3 separate regions of the Homo sapiens genome follow, and regions 1 and 2 are each reported to be linked to region 3. The links are microRNA targets in miRTarBase. Many come from high-throughput screens and were not tested one by one. Region 3 holds a microRNA gene; each other region holds the end of a gene's coding sequence.
The links. Region 3 holds the annotated microRNA hsa-miR-4422 (AAAAGCAUCAGGAAGUACCCA, at 2,797-2,817, opposite strand). A microRNA usually pairs through its seed, bases 2 to 8, with sites in the 3' UTR of a target mRNA and lowers its output. Matches are read on the target gene's strand: a 7mer-m8 pairs with bases 2 to 8, a 7mer-A1 pairs with bases 2 to 7 and ends in A, and an 8mer does both.

Region 1: miRTarBase lists HOXB8 as a target of hsa-miR-4422. Seed matches in the 3' UTR shown: 7mer-A1 at 1,129-1,135.
Region 2: miRTarBase lists SDR16C5 as a target of hsa-miR-4422. Seed matches in the 3' UTR shown: 7mer-m8 at 1,877-1,883.

What each region holds. Positions count from the first base shown.
Region 1 is chr17:48,609,414-48,613,593 of GRCh38, reverse strand. HOXB8 (homeobox B8) reads left to right here. Exons shown (of 2, transcript NM_024016.4): 2 at 85-1,248. The coding sequence ends at 392. It overlaps HOXB7 (homeobox B7), which reads left to right and starts at 2,577. Exons shown (of 2, transcript NM_004502.4): 1 at 2,577-3,075. The coding sequence starts at 2,676. RefSeq lists a silencer at 1,401-1,450 and enhancers at 1,244-2,064, 2,065-2,884, 2,885-3,705.
Region 2 is chr8:56,298,188-56,302,401 of GRCh38, reverse strand. SDR16C5 (short chain dehydrogenase/reductase family 16C member 5) reads left to right here. Exons shown (of 7, transcript NM_138969.4): 7 at 829-2,397. The coding sequence ends at 922. Among named protein-coding and RNA genes, the nearest start is that of SDR16C5, 20 kb to the left of the region's middle.
Region 3 is chr1:55,224,280-55,228,472 of GRCh38, reverse strand. It overlaps MIR4422 (microRNA 4422), which reads right to left and starts at 2,832; the gene lies at 2,750-2,832. All of the region lies in intron 1 of MIR4422HG (MIR4422 host gene), which reads right to left.

The sequences.
Region 1 (4,180 bases), not on the chromosome of region 3:
TTCACGAATCTTCCAACCTTCTCCGTCCCTGCCCCCTCCCCCACCCTCCCCTCCCCTCTGTCTCGCCCTTTCCCCCATTCCCAGCAGCCGCCGGACGCAGGCGAGGCCGACAGACCTACAGCCGCTACCAGACCCTGGAGCTGGAGAAGGAGTTCCTATTTAATCCCTATCTGACTCGTAAGCGGCGAATCGAGGTATCGCACGCCCTGGGACTGACAGAGAGACAGGTCAAAATCTGGTTCCAGAACCGGAGGATGAAGTGGAAAAAAGAGAACAACAAAGACAAGTTCCCCAGCAGCAAATGCGAGCAGGAGGAGCTGGAGAAACAGAAGCTGGAGCGGGCCCCAGAGGCGGCGGACGAGGGCGACGCGCAGAAGGGCGACAAGAAGTAGGCTTCAGCTGGGACTGCCAGGGCCGCGGCCGCCCGCACGTCCGCGGGTCCCGGCCGCGCCGCCGCCGCGCGCCCCTGCCCGAGAGAGCTCTGGCCCCGCTAGCGGGGCCAGGAGCCGGGCCTCCCACCGCAGCGTCCCCCGCCGCGCCAGTCCCCGCTAGTGGTAGTATCTCGTAATAGCTTCTGTGTGTGAGCTACCGTGGATCTCCTTCCCTTCTCTTGGGGGCCGGGGGGAAAGAAAAGGATTTAAGCAAAGGCTCCCTCGCCCTGTGAGGGCGAGCGGCAAAGGCCCGGCTGAGCCCCCCATGCCCCTCCCCTCCCCGTGTAAAAAGCCTCCTTGTGCAATTGTCTTTTTTTTCCTTTGAACGTGCTTCTTTGTAATGACCAAGGTACCGATTTCTGCTAAGTTCTCCCAACAACATGAAACTGCCTATTCACGCCGTAATTCTTTCTGTCTCCCTTCTCTCTCTCTCTCTCGCTCGCTCGCTCTCGCTCTCGCTCTCTCTCGCTGCGTCCTCATTTCCCCTCCCAATCCTCTCTCCCCTCTGCAACCCCCCAGCTCGCTGGCTTTCTCTCTGGCTTCTCTCTTTTCCTCCTCCACCCACCCCCTTTGGTTTGACAATTTTGTCTTAAGTGTTTCTCAAAAGAGGTTACTTTAGTTAGCATGCGCGCTGTGGGCAATTGTTACAAGTGTTCTTAGGTTTACTGTGAAGAGAATGTATTCTGTATCCGTGAATTGCTTTATGGGGGGGAGGGAGGGCTAATTATATATTTTGTTGTTCCTCTATACTTTGTTCTGTTGTCTGCGCCTGAAAAGGGCGGAAGAGTTACAATAAAGTTTACAAGCGAGAACCCGAGACTGGCCCGGCCAGCGCTCCTCATTTGCTCCCGGGTGCCTTGCAGAGCCGGTGGGGAGCCTGTCACCGGGCTCCTGCGCCTGCTGAGGCTAGGCTGCAGAGAGGAGGGGGCGGGGGCTGGAGGCAGGTGGTGCGAGTCCCTCGGCCCAGGGGCGCTGGGGGTGAGGGAGGCGGCTGAGCCTGATTGGAGGAGAGAAAAACGAGGGAGGGGAGCCAAGAGAAACCCCCTCCTCTCGCGTTCCGAGGCTGCCCGGCCAGGGAGGCCAGGGCGCCCAGGCCACGCTGGAGACCTGCGGCTGGGCTGGTGGCTGTGTCCCCCGCCACCTCCCTCTTTGTTTTGCTGTGTGTCCTCCCAAGATGTGTGTCGGGAGGTGGGGTGGGGGGCAGGCATAAAGGTGGAGTGCAGGCCTGCTGAGCATACTTTTTTTCCCTCGGACTGTTGTTGTTGGGGGAGCAGGAGGAGAAGGGAGACCGCTCTTCCCTGCCTCTCCCTCTCAGGGACTTGGCCACCTTCGCTCTGTTCTGAGGCCATGGCTCTCTGCCTTCCTTCCTTCGCTGCCTCTGCTTCTCTGGTAGTCACGCTCCACTGAGGCATCCGCCTCCGGGAACCGGGAGAGCAGCGCGCCCGGGCCAACCTCCACCCTTCCTTTCTCTCCCCACCCTCCCAACCCCCTTTTTCTTTTACTTTCAAACCTTTTTTTTTCTTTTTCTTTCTTTCTTTCTTTTTTTTTTTGCCACCAGAAACGGCAGCGTCCAAGGCCCGTGGGCTGGATCCTGTGCCCTAGGAGCACCTAGGAAGACTTGCTCCATCTCCGCCCGCATATCTGGGGCACCAAGAGAGACAGAGTCGTGAGCCAGGCTCGCCTCATTCCTCGTCTTGGGAGAACCGGACCAACTTCCCCAAAAGGCCTTGCCGTGCAGAATTGGCCTGGTTTAATAAAGAACAGACCTGCCCCAAGCACCCACCCACCCAGTTGCGTGCATTCAATCCCTGCGTTTGTCTCTCGCTCGGTAACGGGCTGAAGAGGATGGGTGGAGGGTGACACGGATCGCCCCGAGGTTATTTATTTTCCCTTCCACTCAATCTCTTCCTCCCCAAATCTCGCCTGCAAGCGGCCTCCAGCCCGCGGGAGTCGGCAGCGGCCCTTGAGCCCCCAGCCCCAATCCACAGGGCTCGGCTTTCCCATTCATTATTGATCATATTTTATAAATCCAACGCCACACAATTTTTTCCACATTACCGGGAGCCGTGGGGAGACGGCCCGGCCATTGGCGGAGGGGACGTCACGTGGGCGGGGTCACGTGGTCCGGAGAGGAAAAAGGGGGTCCTTTTTGGTGTAAATCTGGACTCTAATTCTGTAATATATCAAGGAATCTCGTAAAACCGACACTAAAACGTCCCTGCCTACAAATCATCCGGCCAAATTATGAGTTCATTGTATTATGCGAATACTTTATTTTCTAAATATCCAGCCTCAAGTTCGGTTTTCGCTACCGGAGCCTTCCCAGAACAAACTTCTTGTGCGTTTGCTTCCAACCCCCAGCGCCCGGGCTATGGAGCGGGTTCGGGCGCTTCCTTCGCCGCCTCGATGCAGGGCTTGTACCCCGGCGGGGGGGGCATGGCGGGCCAGAGCGCGGCCGGCGTCTACGCGGCCGGCTATGGGCTCGAGCCGAGTTCCTTCAACATGCACTGCGCGCCCTTTGAGCAGAACCTCTCCGGGGTGTGTCCCGGCGACTCCGCCAAGGCGGCGGGCGCCAAGGAGCAGAGGGACTCGGACTTGGCGGCCGAGAGTAACTTCCGGATCTACCCCTGGATGCGAAGCTCAGGTAACGCCGCGCACCGAGCTGTCCTGAGCCCCAGGGGCCGGGGCACATTACCCTGAAGGCGCCTCCTTCCCGGCTGGGCGCCCCTTTCCGCGTCCAGAGTGCTCCCAGCCGGAGGTCGGCCCTGGAAGGCTGCACCCACTGGGCCGCGACCCAGCAGGCCATCCCCGCCCCCATATTTGCTCGGTGCTCTCAGGCTCGCTCTGCTTCCCGGCGGATCTCTCTTCGCCGGCACCACGGCGCTGCGAGCCCCCAGCCCGCCCCCACCCTTCCTCTCGGCCTTTTAGCTTTAAATATTTATCAGCAGCGCCGGCACGGGCTGGAGACGAGGCCGTTTGTCTTGCGGAGGAAGGCCGGTGTTTGCAGAGAATAGCCATTAGGGTCTCCCCCTTCTCCCCCCTTCCCAGCTAAGGATCTCAGCCCTGGGTGTGTCCCCCTGCCCCACTCGGATAAGGTATGGGGGAGGGGGCCATAGCGCTAAGCAATTCTCCCCTCCCCCTTCCTCTCCAGCCAACCCCGCTCCCCCATTATTCCCATCAGGACAATTAGAGGTGGGCTCTAGAGGCCTGGCGGGAGGAGAAAAGGACCCAGCCAGGGACACAGAGCTAGAGAGGCAGGTGGAGGGAGGGGGCTGAGGCCAAAGGAGATGATCCTCCTGATCCCAGTGAACCTGGGTGGGGGAGTGGAACAGGAGAACTAGAAAGGGGCAGAGGCTTCATGGGAGTGCAGCTGGCTTCCTGAGGTGCTCTTCCTAGGGCTCCTAGGAACCCCTAAAGAACTGGCCAAGTTTGGAGGTGTCATTCCAGATAAGTGACCCTTTTCTTGGGGGAGGGGCTAGGACTCTCTGGAGCCAATTCAAAAATTAGAGAGTGCAGTTCACCTAGCCAGCTGCTGCAGAACCCCAAGAGGCTGAGGTTCCATGGGGTCCCTGCCGAGTCTGACCCAGACATCCTTTTCTGCACTGTTCCAAAGCAGACGAACTTAGGGGCTAGCCCCAAAGTCCAGAAGACCCAAGACTCATGGTCAGAGGCACCCAACCCAGCAATGGTCAGGGGCCAGAAGCAGCCCAGCTCTCATACCATCAGTATTAGTGGTTATAGGTCCCATT
Region 2 (4,214 bases), not on the chromosome of region 3:
CGCCCGGCCGGTGAGAATTAATTTTAAGAATGGTGTTTGGTGGGTGGAGGGAGTCTCATAAAGAAGGTAGTACTTGACCAGAGACTTGAAGCTGTGGGAGGGATGAACCACCTGGAGATCTTGGGGTGCCCAAACAGGGGAACAAGGAGCATGGGGTCCTTTCCTTTACCCCCACCTTAGGATGAGTCTCAGGTTTCCCGTGCCTGCTTTGTTTCCTTGCTCTGCAGTATTGAATGCAAAGGCCAGTGGAGCAGAGTGCTCTGTTGGGATGATGATCATGCATGTATATGGCTTTGCAGAGGGGCAGGTGTGGATGGAGAAGATGGACAGTGTTAGTTGGGTCTTGCCCAAGGTTTGAGGAGCTATTGCATCTCATCCTCACAGTAGCGCCAGAAAGGCAGACTGATGACCTCATTTTACAGTTGAGGAAACTGAGGTCTATGAGCTGAGTCGATTGCCTAAGGCGGCACTGCAAATGACAGAGCTAGGATTCCAGCCAGGCTCATCTGCCCCCAAAGCGCATGCCTACAGGACAAGACTTCACTGCTTCCTCTGTGTCATTGTACAGTGGAGTGATGCTTTGGAAACCGAAATGAGAAGTGAATTGAATAACTTAAGCCAGAAGACCTGTCAAGGCCCTGGGCGAGTGTCCCCGGATATAGTGAACAAGGCCCAGTGACCCTGAGGCGGGTAGCACTCAGGCTGCATAGTGTGTGCATGAGTGAGTGACTTCATCTGCCACAAGAGGTGACACTGCTTTTCAGTAGAGGTGGTAAAGAGGCTTTCATGAATGATAATAAAGAAAGTTTATTCTTGTGTTCTCTTTAGCTTTTTGCCCCTCAAGACAGGACTGCTTATAGCTGACTATTTGGGCATCCTTCATGCAATGGATGGCTTTGTTGACCAAAAGAAGAAGCTCTAAAGACCAACTCTATGGCTAAGGTCATCTGATACACAGTGTTACATAATGCGTACTTCAATGAAGAAAAGTATTTTTGTCTGACAGTGGAATATATCTGGAGACCACAAGTACCACTCCTATTCTGTTATCTGGACTAGAATTTTCAATCAATGTGTTTGAAAATAATGTTGCTATCACCTATTTGGTTGAGTTTTGGTTTTTTCTTTTTCTTTTTTTTTCCAAAAATAAAGACAGCCCATTTTTGTCATTTCCATTACCACAGATGTAAGAAAGTGATAAGCCATGGCCATGAGCTGCCCTGAGCTTTGGTCGTTGGGGAGGTGGCTCAAATGGAGCCAGCGGCTGTGGTTGACCTGCCTTGGGGAGCAGGGCTGAGGGGCGAAGAGGACATGTGGATATCCAGCCAGAATGCCCTCTCTCCAGAGGACACACAGCTCTGGATTTCTACCCCCTTGCTATCCTCTCTGGCCATTTTGAACCTGTACCACCTAATGTAGAAAAGGCCCGCCTCCAGTGCCCTTCTTTCCAAAACAGCTACACAAATGCTTCTGAATGCCCTGGATACGCAGACCGAGTGGCAGTCTGGCTAAAGGCCCATCCAGCACTATTGTGCCCAAGAGCCTTACCGGGCATTCCCTGAAGCCCCCTCATAGGCAGTGATCCTAGACCAAACTCTTAAATAGAATCACTTTTGTTTCCTAGAAGAGATCAAAGAGTGGTTGCTTCTTACTTTGAAGATGAAATTATACCAAGTTAGGTTTTTTGCTATCTATTGATCCAAAAAATATATTCGTGCAATTAAAGTTAAGTGTTCAACTTAGTATTTCAAGTTGGGATTCAGGTTGAGGCATTTTCCTGCAGAATGGGCAATTTTATGCATTTATATTCATCAGTGCTGCCCTCACTTTGGATCTATTGTATTCTTACAGTTTAATCAACTGGCAAAGTGCTTTCATGCTTTGGAGATTAACTATAAAAGCAAGATTAAGAAAAATATGTTAATTACCATATCCCTGGAACTCCTTCTCAGGCTGGTGGGGGCAGCCTTGCAAGAGAAACAGCAGCCTTTGTCTCTTCCCTCTTGTGGGGAGCAAGGAGGGGATGAGCGGTACCTTGGGAGACCCGGTAAAAGTCTAAAGAATTGAGAATTTGACTATCTTGGGGGTAAAATGCTGTCATAGGGGCAGCAGTCTCAGGGGGTGTAAACTCTGGAATCCACTATGGTTTACCTTGAGTGGCCTGCACGAACATGACAGCCCTGATCTGTATTTCCTTTCCATTCAGAAAACCTTAAAAAAAAAAAACTTGTTTTATGATAATATTATAACAATCATAACTAACATTTACTGTGCCCGGCAGCAAATTAAGTATTTGACAAACATTATTTCATTAAACGAGACTGTCAATCATTACTCAAAGAATGATGAAGGTATTTGGTGTATGCCAAAGAATAAAGGCGTTTTATTTCACAGTGACATCTTATTCCACTGTAGATGTATACTGAGAGGATCAAAGGCCCTCTCAGAGTCACCCACTGATGTTCCAAATCCTTGGTTAACAAGGTTAATTAAGAGAGAAGCACAATATTGCTGTAATATTACAATTCCAGAAGCGTATCTTCTAGGGTCCTGTCTATTTAGTTAAAGAATAAAGCTCAGACTCTTCGGGGATTCAGTACAACAAAGGTCCAGGAGCACTGCAGGCATCCTCCACATCATAACAGCATTAATAGCAATTATTTCTAATTGGAGTGCATCTTGGCTGGACTGCGACAAAGGCCTGAAATTCAATTGTGGTTTTAAAATACCCATAAAATTGTCTAAACAAATTCAGATTTACTTGAGATGCTTCTATGAGAAGAGACCACATGTAAATTAGTGGATTCTAGAGGGCACTAAATAACAAGGTGATTTAATGCCCTGGGGAGCAAGGAGTGCTCTTGGCATGTGTGTCATGCCCGTTTCCATCAAAATTTAGTCCTAATGAAGCCATGACCAAGAGCCCAACACCTAAGCCAGGCTGAGGAAACAGAAGGACACAGGGCCAGGGCTGTGCCCCATGCCTGGGCATTCTGCCCTGCAGGGCGCATCTTCCAGCATCTTGTACTCACTGAGCTGCTCCAAAGCAGAGAAGAATTCTTGGTGTAAGATGGAGTTTTGCTGGGTAAAAATGTGTGTCATGCCGTGTGTGTGTGTGTGTGTGTGTGTGTGTGTGTGTGTGGTTTTACATTGTGATGCTGTCTTAGTCCATTAGGGCCACCATAACAAAATGCCACAAATTGAGTACTTTAAACAACAGAAATTTAATTCTCAGAATTCTGGAAGCTAGGAGTTCAAGATCAAGGTGCCAGCTGGTTCATTTTCTGGTGAGGGCTCTCTTGCTGGCTTGTGGAGAACTTCTTGCTGTGTCTTCACAGAGTCTTTCCTTGGTGTGTGTGTGTGGAGAGAGAGAGAGAAAGACATATTTCTTCTTCTAAGGACACCAGTTCCATCATAAGGGCTCTACTTTCTTGACCTCATCTAACCCTAATTACCTCCCAAAGTCCCACATCATCCCATATGAATTTTGGGGTAACACAGACATGCAGTCCATAACAGATGCCAAGATAGAAAAAAACCAGACCACAAATGACATTTACACTCCTTAGAGTCCTCATGCTGAGATGGTCACAGTTCATCAGATGAAATAATTCTGAATCTTGGAGGCAGAGTGAATTGAGAATGCCTGAAAGAAATTAATTCCAACCTGCCAGAGTCAGCACTTGAGAAAAATATGACTGAAAATCTGGGCCACCAGACAAAAACTGTTGTGAAGCCAGACGTCCCATGCAGAGCAGCTCTGGGACGAACATGTCTGGTGCTAGGCACCCTCAACATTCCAGGCTCATGAACCATGTTGGACCGGGAGCAGGGCTCACATATGTAATTCCAGCTCTTTGGGAGGCCAAGGCAGGAGGATAGCTTGAGGCCAGGAATTCAAGACCAGCCTGGGCAACACAGCAAGACCCTGTTTCTACAAAAAATTTAAATATTAGCCCGATGTGGTGGTGCACACTTGTAGTCCCAGCTACTCAGGAGGCTAAGGTAGGAGGATTGCTGGAGCCCAGGAGTTCAAGGCAGCAGTGAGCTATGATCACACCACTGTACCCCAACCTGGGTGACAGAGTGAGACTTTGTCTCTAAAATATTAAATAAAAAATAAGTAAAATGCAGCCTCAGGTAATTTGTCCATCTCTTTGATTCACATTGGCTTCTAAGCCCCCCAGCTTTCATGTCTACCATGTCATGGTGAT
Region 3 (4,193 bases):
GGTGGGCAGATCATGAGGCCAGGAGATCGAGACCATCCTGGCAAACATGGTAAAACCTCATCTCTACTAAAAATACAAAAATTAGGTGGTTGGGGTGGCACGTGCCTATAATCCCAGCTACTTGGGAGGCTGAGGCATGAGAATCACTTGAACCCAGGAGGCGGAGGTTGCAGTGAGCAAAGATCATGCCACTGCACTCCAGCCTGGCAACAGAGCGAGACTCCATCTCAAAAAAAAATGATAAAATGAAGTAAATAATAAAAAATTAAAAAAATAAAACTAATTGCTCTCTTTCCCCAATATTATCGTTTTTCTGTTTTTTTATTTTAAGACAGAGTCTCACTCTGCCGCCCAGGCTGGAGTGCAGTGGCGTAGTCTCAGCGCACTGCAACCTCTGCCTCCCGGGTTCACGCCATTCTCCTACCTCAGCCTCCTGAGTAGCTGGGACTACAGGCGCCTGCCACCATGCCTGGCTAATTTTTTGTATTTTTAGTAGAGATGGGGTTTCACCATGTTAGCCAGGATGGTCTTGATCTCCTGACCTCATAATCCGCCCGCCTCGGCCTACCAAAGTGCTGGGATTACAGGCGTGAGCCACCGTGCCTGGCCACTATGCTTTAAAAGAAAACATTAGCAAGCTGAATCCCAGTACCATATATAATGAATTATACACCTCGACCAAGTGGGATTTACTCCAGGAATGCAAGGTTGGTTTAATATCTGAAAATCAATTAATGCAACACATCATATCAACAGAATTCTTTTAATGACATGATTATCTCAATAGATGAAGAAAAAGCATTTGGAGACAAAGATCCAATACCTTTCATGATAAAAAAATAATAATAAGGAAAAAAAGAACAAAAGAGACCTCTCTCAACTTGATACAGGCATCCATGAAAAACCCACAGCTAACATCATTCTCAATGGTGAAAGACCGGGTATTTTCCCCATAAGATCAGTAGCAAGACATGGATGGCTGCTCTTACCACCTCCATTCTACACTCTACTGGAGGTTCTAGTCAGGGCAATTAGGCAAGAAAAATAAATAAAAGACAACCAGATTGGAAAGATATATTATCTTATATATCATTAATATACAAGATAACAACATGATCTTGCGTATTAAAAATCCTAAGGAATTCACAAAAACTATTATAAATAATAAACAAATTCAGCAAGGTTGCAGGTTACAAAATCAATACATAAAATTCAATTGTATGTTTATACACTTGCAATGAACAATTCAAAAGTGAAATTAAGAGAACAATTCCATTTATAATAGCACCAAAAGGTAAAATATTTAGAAACAAATGTCCTGAAGAAGGACAAGACTTGACCGGGTGTGGTGGCTCATGCCTGTAATCCCAGCACTTTGGGAGGCCAAGGAGGGTAAATCACTTGAGGTCAGGAGTTCGAGACCAGCCTGACCAACACGGTGAAACCCCGCCTCTACTAAAAAAAAAAAAAAAAAATACAAACACCGGGCACAGTGGCTCACACCTGTAATCCTAGTATTTTGGGAGGCTGAGGCGGGCGGATGACCTGAAGTTGGGAGTTCGAGACCAGCCTGAACAATATGGAGAAACCCCACCTCTACTAAAAATACAAAATTAGCCAGGCGTGGTGGCAGGCACCTGTAATCCCAGCTACTCAGGAGGCTAAAGCAGGAGAATCACTTGAACCCTGGAGGCAGAGGTCACAGTGAGCCAAGATCACACCATTGCACTCCAGCCTGGGCAACAAGAGCAAAACTCCATCTCAAAAAAAAAAAAAGTCAGATACTTAATACTTATTACTAAGTATTAGAGAAGATGTGTAGAAATCAAAACCCTCATACACAGCTGGTGGGAATATAAAATTGGAAAACAATTTGGCAGTTCCTCAAAAAATTAAATATAGAATTAACATTTGACCCGCAATCCAAGTCCTAGGTTTATGTCCAAGAGAAATGAAAACATATATCTACACAAAAACTTTTACTTAAATGTTTATAGCATCATTCATAATACCCAAAAGTTGGAAACAACTCAAATGTCCATCATGAATAGATAAACAAAATATCCATATAATGGAATACTATTCAGCCATAAAATGGAATGATGTACTAATGCATGCTACAACATGAATAAATCTTGTAAAGGTATGCTAAGTGAAAGAAGCAGACTCAAAAGATCACATAAGATTCCATTTATATGAATTTTCTAGAGTAGGCAAATCTATAGAGACCAAAAGTAGATTAGTGGTTGCTTATCTCTGGGGGCGTTGGGGGAAACAGGGAAATGGGAGAGTGATAGCTAAAGGCTACAGAGTTTCCTTTTAGGTGATGAAAATGTTCTGAAATTGCCAACAGTGATAGTTGCACATATCTGTGAATGCATTGAAAACTAGAATCGTACATTTTAAATGGGTAAATTGTATGGTATGTAAATTATACATCTCAAGAAAGCTGTTACCAAAAAAAGTCAATACTCAATTAGAGTATTCAAGGTATGAACATTGATGACAATTTTCTGGTTGCCTTTTTTTTTTTTTTTTTTTTTTTTAGAAAAAACAAACATATAGTATATAATGGATATAGATTTGTATCCATCAAAATCCAGTACATTAAATATCATTTTACTTTGCTTTTTCTGAAACTAATTAAAACTCACCTGAACCTTCATTTGCCAAAATATCGAGACATTGAATTACAGTTTTAATTAGGGCTCCCCCACTTACCTTCCAGGAGGATTTATTCAGGTTGCAGGGCTCCTCTGCAATCAAGAGCATCAAGAAGGGCCCACTGGTACATGGTGGGTACTTCCTGATGCTTTTGTCTGCAGAAGAACTGGTTAACTGGTTAATACTGGTTAACAGTGAAAGGACAACAGTCTAAGCTTGCATAGGCTAAAGTACTTTGAGGAAAGGTGGTTCTGGGGCTCCTCTGCCCTGCCCTGCTAGAGACTGAGGGATTTTCTGAGACTAGAAGTCCTGGGACCCAACCAGTCACTTCTCTTTGAGCTCTTTCTACTCCCCTGGCCACTGTGAGCCAGCAATACAGATCAGCTTGCTTAAGACCATCCCTCCTACTGAGAACAACTAGAAAAGCTGGGAAGAATACAGGAAATACCAGTTTGAAGGCACTGGAAAGTTTCTAAGAAAACGTGAACTCAAAGGACCAATCCCAAAGAGAAAGGAAGTACAGAGAGGTGAACCCATCATTTGGTATTGCTTTTCCTTTAATGTTTTTGCTGATTCCTAATCAGCAACTGAGAAGCCCAAAAGCTGAAGAGAGCTTACAGGGCTGAGATGACAAGAATTGGAGATCAGGAGCCATTAAAGAGGAGGTACTCTGGTAAGCACCATAGGATTTCATTTGATATGGTAATATGTTACATAGCTGGCTGCTAGTGAACCAAACCTTCCAGGATTTATGCCTATGGGTGGTCCTCTTCACATTGGTTTCGGGCTTAGCCATATAATTTGTTTTCTTTTGTTTGTGTCTTGAGAGATGGGGGTCTGGCTACATTGCCCAGGCTGGAGTGCAGTATTCACAGGTGTGATCATAGCACACTCCCTCCTCAATCTCCTGGCCTCAAGCAACCCTCCTGTCTCAGCCTCCTGAGTAGGTGAGAGTACAGGTGTACACCACTGCATCTGGCTTATGTGATTTGTTTTTATCAATAGTACATTAGTAAAGGTGAAACAAACAAAGATTAAATATGAACTTGCTCACTGGGACTTGTACTTTTGGATTTCTCCCTGTTAGAATCTAGCCTCCATGCTTAAGTCAAGGTTATCCCAGTGGAGAAATAGGCCATGTGGAGAGGCCCTCGGGGATGGAATATTGTATAGAGATGCCATGTGAAAACTTACTAAAATGCCCCAGCCAAGTGCCCAGCTGAATGCAGCTTTACGAATGATCCCAGCCAATACCAAATGAAGAACTGTTCAGTCGACCCAGATAATTGCCAGAAATCACTATTGTTTTAAGCCACAAATATTGAAGTGGTTTGAGATACAGCAATGAACAACTAAACCAGTTGGGAACCCTAAAGAATCCTACAAGTAAGATGGGCCAAAAATAGACTAGCCCTCACAAAGACTGAGGTCCAGAAACCCACAGAAACCCTCCTAATCCCTGATTGAATTAAGTTGCTTTTTTTTTTTTTTTTTTTGAGGCGGAGTCTTATGTGTTGCCCAAGCTGGAG